2 linked regions of the Homo sapiens genome follow. The protein of the gene in region 1 interacts with the protein of each later gene in a pairwise test. Each region holds a gene or a part of one and is shown in the gene's direction. Other genes may lie near its edges. The genes, in order: LYRM1 and MTAP.

Evidence for each region.
Region 2: the proteins of LYRM1 (region 1) and MTAP interact in a two-hybrid assay, tested with the Homo sapiens proteins (one large-scale study listed by BioGRID and IntAct).

What each region holds. Positions count from the first base shown.
Region 1 is NC_000016.10:20,903,511-20,907,338, forward strand, and holds part of LYRM1 (LYR motif-containing protein 1), read left to right. Parts: intron 1-3,828. UniProt on the Homo sapiens protein: May promote cell proliferation and inhibition of apoptosis of preadipocytes.
Region 2 is NC_000009.12:21,864,357-21,867,657, forward strand, and holds the end of MTAP (S-methyl-5'-thioadenosine phosphorylase), read left to right. Parts: 3' UTR 1-2,725; downstream 2,726-3,301. UniProt on the Homo sapiens protein: Catalyzes the reversible phosphorylation of S-methyl-5'-thioadenosine (MTA) to adenine and 5-methylthioribose-1-phosphate. Involved in the breakdown of MTA, a major by-product of polyamine biosynthesis.

The sequences.
Region 1 (3,828 bases):
AGCTACCTGTGACAGGTGTGTGTCCTATTGGACAGAGCAGATAGAACCTTTCCTTCACAGAAAGTTATCTTGGTCAGCATTGGACTGGAGGAACTCGAGGGTACTATGTAGGCTAGTCATTCTCCGCATGTGAAACTCAAGGGACTTAGCCTACTGAGGAGCTCTGGTGCCTCTGCAGATGGGAAAGTTGCGCATTCAGTAGTTATTTGATGGTGGAGGAAGCTGTCCTGAAGGCCTGGACCCCTGCACAGAATGTGGTTATTTATCAGAGAGTTGGATCAAGGGTCAGGTGCTAGAAAGCCCCAACTGTATCTAGTGTGGCATGCAAAGCTCTTTGGTCAGTTTCCTAATCCAGTTCCTCAGAAAACTATAACAAAGCAAGAACTTAAGTCAGTGTCTTGTGTTCTCAGACTTTTCGATTTGATATGAAGGGTGAAAGATCCTGGCTGGGGAGTTATGAATGAATGAATGAATGAATGAATGAATGATCTTTAGCATTGGCCTTCAATTCCAGCCCCCCCACCACATCTCTTCCACTGCCTTCTACTACTAGTAACTGGTGACTGCTTTTTCACCACCTCTGACTGACCCGTACCTTTTCTTTGCCTGTTAAAATATGCTAATAAGGAAACATACTTCCATTTCTTTTGAATTGAGGGGCCCATAACTTTTCATTTAGAACTTCTATCCCTGATGGGAAAAATAGCTGTATATCTATTGGTTGTTATCTTGGTTACAGTAGCCTGATTGGAGTTCCCCTGTACAAATATAATCTTGTGTGCGCTCCGGTGCTGGTATGATATATTTAGAATGGGTGTGCTTGCCTCCTGTGATCTTGTTTGGGATAGACATTTTAGAAGTCTTTCAGACATTTTTTGTTTTGGCCCCGTGTTCTAAAAACTTCCCATATTACAGGGCCTAAACTAAATTATTTTCCCTTAGGTAAAATAAAAATGCCATCCACCCTCTCCTCCCTGCCCCCTATTGCTGACAGACCATATTCTTATCATTTTCTGTGTAAAAAGATGCTGTTTCATAAAATAGCTGCGGTATGATTAAGTATACCACACAAGCATATCCTGAAATTTGCAAAACAGTGTGTGGCATGTGAGGCATTACACTTCCCTTTTTGGATTCTAGTAACCAAAAACTGAATCTGAAACAGGAAATAAGTCTGTGGTTGTGTGTGTGTGTGTGTGTGTGTGTGTGTGTGTGTTTAATTGATAGGAGGATATGGGACCAGAAATGTATGGAGAACAATTTCACTTAAAGGTTATTGGATTGGGGTAAGAATATGGGTGTACACCAAAAAGGAGGGAGTATAACAGATCTAAGAGAAAAGTGCCCTGAGGGATAAACAAGGAGTAAGAGATAAAGGAAGAAAAATAGGAAGGGAAGCCTGGTCATGCCTTTGGTGTTGGCACCTGCATTATATTTCCAGTAAGAAGTATGCGCTGTGGTCTGAAGATAAGCGGTGCTTCCAACAGGGTTATTTACTCATACCAAAGAACAATAGTCCTTTGCTGTACAGGGATTATTAATGATCAGAGGGAAACAGCTTTAGGAAAATCCATTACTACCACAAAGCAATAAATTCACCAACAGGCCACACATTTCTCTCCTATTCAGACAAAGCTTAGCATAGATAAAAGAGACCTCGTTGTTCTTCCTCTGTTTCCTCCTATTCAGGTAACATTTGCCTTTGTTAACTCTCAGTGCTAAGTGATGTTACATGGATTATTTCATGAATAATCCTTACGACTCTGAAAGGGGTTCTGCTATTACCCCATTGTACATTCTAAGAAACCAAGTCTCAGGCAGTTAATAATTTGCCCAATGGGGTAAAGTCAAGATTCAAACCCAGCCTTGTCCGCCCAGAGCCCAAAATAAATGTTCATTTATTTTGTATTATATCTGCTATTCCTTACAAATGGGACAGACATTCCCTACTCTGCTATACAGGGCAAGAACATCTGGTTGCTCTGACATTAGCAAGAGCATTTCAATTCTGTAGAGGTTTTCCAAATGATAGTTTTAAGTCACAGTTTTCTAGATTGATTTTAACCCATGATCATTGAGTATAGTGGACCTTATTCCCCAAAAGGATTTTTTCAGGAAAAAAGTATCAGAACCCCATTCTTCTATGTTTGGTTCTAAACTTCATGGAAATATTATAAGGTATTTCAGTCCAGTGGACAAACCCTAACCAGCCTTAAGAAAACTTAAGAGTGAGGGTTACATCATAGCTGTGTCTCTTACGCTGTTCTGGATGAAACTGATGAGGATTCCTCCCCAAGTAACACTGAGTCTCCAGTTCTTTATCCTGACACACACTGCTCTTGAAAGCATCCTAGTAAGGGTTAATTAGTATTTAACCCTTCAATGCTCTGGGATCATCAGTTGGGAAGCTTGTCCAGATACCATCGTGTGTATCTCAGGATGAGAACATACGTTATCAATGACCATTCTGTGTGTGTAAATTTATTCTTCTAATACATATTTGTCATGTTCCAACTATGTGCCAGCCTAGGCATGTAATGTACAAGACAGTCCCAAATCTCCCCCTGCTCTCCCCACCTCCTACTCCCTGCAACACACACATGGTGGAAAAAGAAAGGTAAGTCATGCAAAATTATGATAGAGTAGGATGAACATTATGACAGGGGTATGCCAGAGGTGCCAGGAGTGCACATAGCCGGGACACTGACCCAGCCCCAGTGTGAAAAGGGCACCCGTCCAGAAGTGATGGAAGTCAAAAGGTGGAAGCAGCAAATAGGCAAAGAAAGGGTATTTCAGTTGTATGAAGTAGAGAGGCTTCCTATGGCAAAAAGAGGGACATTGCACATACAGAAGACCATGATCTCATTTGGGTGGAGTTTATGATTCCCCCTCCTTGCTAAAAAATCATAAAGTACTTGGGAGAGAAATTTGACTATACTACGGTCATGAGTTCTGATGAGGGAAAAAATTCCACCTAGGGGTAGGTCTTTCCTGAAATAAATGGAAAGGGGTGTTTAACTTCCTGGGGCTTGAAAATCAGGGTAAATTCCTCTTGCCTTTGTCCCATTTCTTATTTGTACTGCAACACATTTTCTTTAGAAGGCAAAGCCTCATGAGAGTCCAGCATTTGGAATTTGGACATTCCTGAGACCAGAGTCATACTTCTATAAATCTCAGCTGGGGAAAGGGAATTTTCATCTCTGCTCTTAAATTCCTAAGTGTTCATGCTGCAATGGTCTTTCCAAAGGCAGAGGAACTGTTCCAGAGGTGGGGTAAAAGGGCACAGTGGATGAGGCCCCTCATACCAGCAGATCTTTCCATAGTCCTCCTGTAGAAACACCAAGTGTCTGGGTATGCCTTGTACAGTAAGTTCTTGGAACCTCCCCAGACCCTCTCACTGCACTTTGGACAGTGAGTGGCAGAGTGGGTGGGTGTTTGGTGTTTGGTTTTTGTTTTTGTTTTTTAGACTGATCGCTGCCCATTATGAGTCCCCATTACTGACTCCAAAATAGAAAAGCTTGTGGTCAGTCAGGAAAATGATCATCCAGCTTTTTTGGCTCTTGACCCTGACTCCTGTCAACTAATTAGGGGCATTAGGCAAGATCTTGTTTCACCATCTGTACAAGTGTTGGAATTATAAGTAGTTATGATATACAGTAGTTTGATATACAGTGTATTTAAAAAGATATAAATCAGACCGTGTTACTCCAGCTTGCATAAAATCTACCAGTGTCTTTTGCGCTTAAGACCAGAAACAAAGTGCCTTTCCAAGGCCTACCCCCAACCTGTGCTGGATTCTGTGGACCTGTGGCCCCTTTCCCAAAGGCT
Region 2 (3,301 bases), on another chromosome or scaffold:
TTTTTTAATTTAAGCTAGTATACTAAGTGAACACCATGGTCAGTTGTGAGCATTTTGGTTTCCGCAAAGGATGGATGGTGAGCATCATGGGAAAGCTGTAGTTTAGTGACTTAGCCCTTAGTGATTAATAGATTTGCATGTACATAGAAGTCTTTGTTGGCCTTATAATCTGCTGTTATATTTGGCATGGATTTTCATGGTTTTGAGAATGACATCCTGGCCCTGTGGTCCCCGAGGGTCATGGTCCTTGTGACCTGGCCCCTGTTCACTGCCCCCTTCGCTAGCACGAGTTGCTGTGCAGGGCTGGAGGTAGCTACCATGGCTTGTTTCAAGGAAGGAAACTCTGGTACGGTGGCACCCTCAGGAGTGGAGGACAGTGAACTTCCTTGAAGAGGGAGTGACTAAGGTGACCTCCAACCTGCCCTGAGCCAGCTGCCCTGCAGGTGCCACGTGAGCCTGCTCTGGCATCCACAGGATGCTCCTGGAGCCTCTTCTCTGGCTGCTACCTCAGGGCATGGTTGTGGCCCCACCAACACCTATTTTCCAAATAATTATTCATTCTTGTGACAGTGGCCTGAACATGTTTTTAATTTTCTCAACAAGCATTTAGCCAGCACTTATCCAGTGAAACAATTTGATAAGGTTTCAAGGAGTATCTGATGGGTTAGGAAGTCACGAAATGAGGAGTTCTTGCCACATTTGCAGAGTCCCTCCTTGATAAGGTTTGGCGGTGTCCCCACCCAAATCTCATGTTGAATTGTAGTTCCCATAATCCCCACATGTTGTGGGAGGGACCCAGTGGGAGGTAATTAAATCATGGGGGTGGTTACCCCCACACTGCTGTTCTCATGATACTGAGTTCTCACAAGTCCTGTTTGTTTTATAAGGGGCTTTTCCCCCTTTTGCTCAACACTTCTTCCTGCCATCATGTGAAGAAGGACGTGTTTGTTTCCCCTTCTGCCACGATTGTAAGTTTCCTGAGGCCTTCCCAGCTATGTGGAACTGTGAGTTAATTAAACCTCTTTCCTTTATAAATTACCCAGTCATGGGCAGTCCTTTACAGCAGCATGAGAATGGACTAATACACTCCTCAAATGTTTTGAAGATTGTTGCACCTTGGAACTACCAGTGTGCACACAATCTGGCTCAATGTATATATTGGCCCAGCAAGGCAAAGAACTGAAGTTCCAGGATGGAAGAACCTGTGTTCTCCTCATAATAGTATAGAATAATTCAAGATAGGCAAGAAGGACAGCAGTAAATGAAGACCATGGAAGAAAAGAAGGAATGCCAAAGATCGAGGAAATCTACCAAGACTAGTAGGGTAGTCCAGAAGAAGCTGTTTCAGGGCCTGTTGCCAGCTATGCCTTTGAGAACCTCGGGATCCCAAAGAATGAGGGGAATTTCTTCAGAAAGACAATCTCGGCATGCATTATTTCTTTGTTTTGAAGATTCACTCATGTTGCATGCATCTGTAGCTTGTGCCTTTTTTATTGCCTAGTAGTATTCTGTCATATGCCTATCTTACAATTTGATTATCTATTCACCTGTTGATGAATGTTTGAATTTTTTCCATTTGAGGAATTTTATGAATAAAGCTGCTATAAGCATGAAATTACAAGTCTTTTTGTGAACATATTTTCACTTGTGCAAATGCCTATACTCCCACCAGTAATTTGTAAGAATTCTTGACAAAGCTTGGTATTGTCAGCGTTTTTAATTTTAGCCATTCTATTGGGTATATTTTGATATCTCGTGGTTTTGATTTGCATTTTTCTGATTAAAGATGTTGAACTTCTTTTCATGTGCTTATTGGCCATTCACATATTTCGTGAACTATCTGTACAAATATTTTTGTTTATTAAAAAATTAGATTGTTTTGTTTTATTATTGAATAGTAAGAATTGTTTATATATTCTGGATACACTCTTTTTCAGATATGTGTGTTGTGACTATTCTTAGTCTTTAGCTTGCCTTTTCATTTTCTTAATTATGTCTTTCAAAGAACAAGTTTTTCATTTTGACGAAGCCTAGTTTATCAATTTTTTTTATGGTTGGTGCTTTTTGTGTGTTCCAAGAAATCTTTGCCTACTCATTTAATTACCTGTGTGCCCTTGTCAAAATCATTTAATTTTGACTACTCACTTAATTACCTTGCCTACTCATTTAATTACCTGTGTGCCCTTGTCAAAATTTACTGTTTATCTGTGAATCTGGATGATCTATTTATGTCATTTATCTATGTGTCTCTTCTTATGCCAGTACCCCACTGTCTTGATTATTGTGGCTTTATGGTGTCTTGAAATTAAGTATTGTTAAGCTTTGCAATCTTTTCCAAGATTGTTTTGGCTATAGGTCCTTTCTTTATAAAGTTTATATTAAGCTTCTCCATTTTTCTTTAAGAAAAAATCTGCTGGAATGGCACTGAATTTTTAGGTCGATTTGGGAAGAATTGACAATATTGAACCTTTCAATCGATGGACATGGTATGTTTCTGCATTTATTTGGGCCTTTTAAAATTTATCTCAGCAATATTTTGTAGTTTTAGTGAAGAAGTCTTGTATATATCTTTTGTTAAATGTATTCCTAAATATTTTGTGGAAATGTTACTGTAAATAGTACTTTAATTTCATTTTTAAGTTTATTGCTGGTATACAGAAATATGTTTTATTTTTGTATATTGACTTTATATTCTGTAATCTTATTAAATTCACTTAGTTCAGTAGTAGTTCTTATTTTTATTTTATTGCAAGTGCCTTAGGGATACCTTGTGTACACAATCATGTCATATATGAATAACAACAGTTTACCTTTTGTTTCTTCTTGCTTTGTCGTAATGGCTAGGACCTTCAACCTAATGTTGAATAGAAGCGGTGTGTGAGTTGTTACTCTTGTCTTATTCTCAACAGCAGAGGATAGCGTCTAGTTTTTCACTATTAAAATATGTTAGCTATAGGTTTTTTCCGTTTCATGTTTTTATCAGATTGAAGATCCCTTTTATTCCTATTTTGCCAAGAGTGTCATGAATGCATGTTGAATTTCACCAAGTACTTTTTCCTGCATCTGTTGAGAGAATCTTGACTTTTCTCTTTTATTTTGTTAATGTAGATTCTTTAATGTTAAACTGATCTTGCATTCCTGATATAAACCATACTTAGTCATGATATGTTATCCCCTTTATATAATGCTGGATTCGGTTTGCAAATATTTTGTTTGATTTTTGCATCTATGCTCATGAGACAGATTGGTCTGTGATTTTCCTTTCTTGTAAGTCTTGTCAGGTGTCAGGGCTTGGTTAATT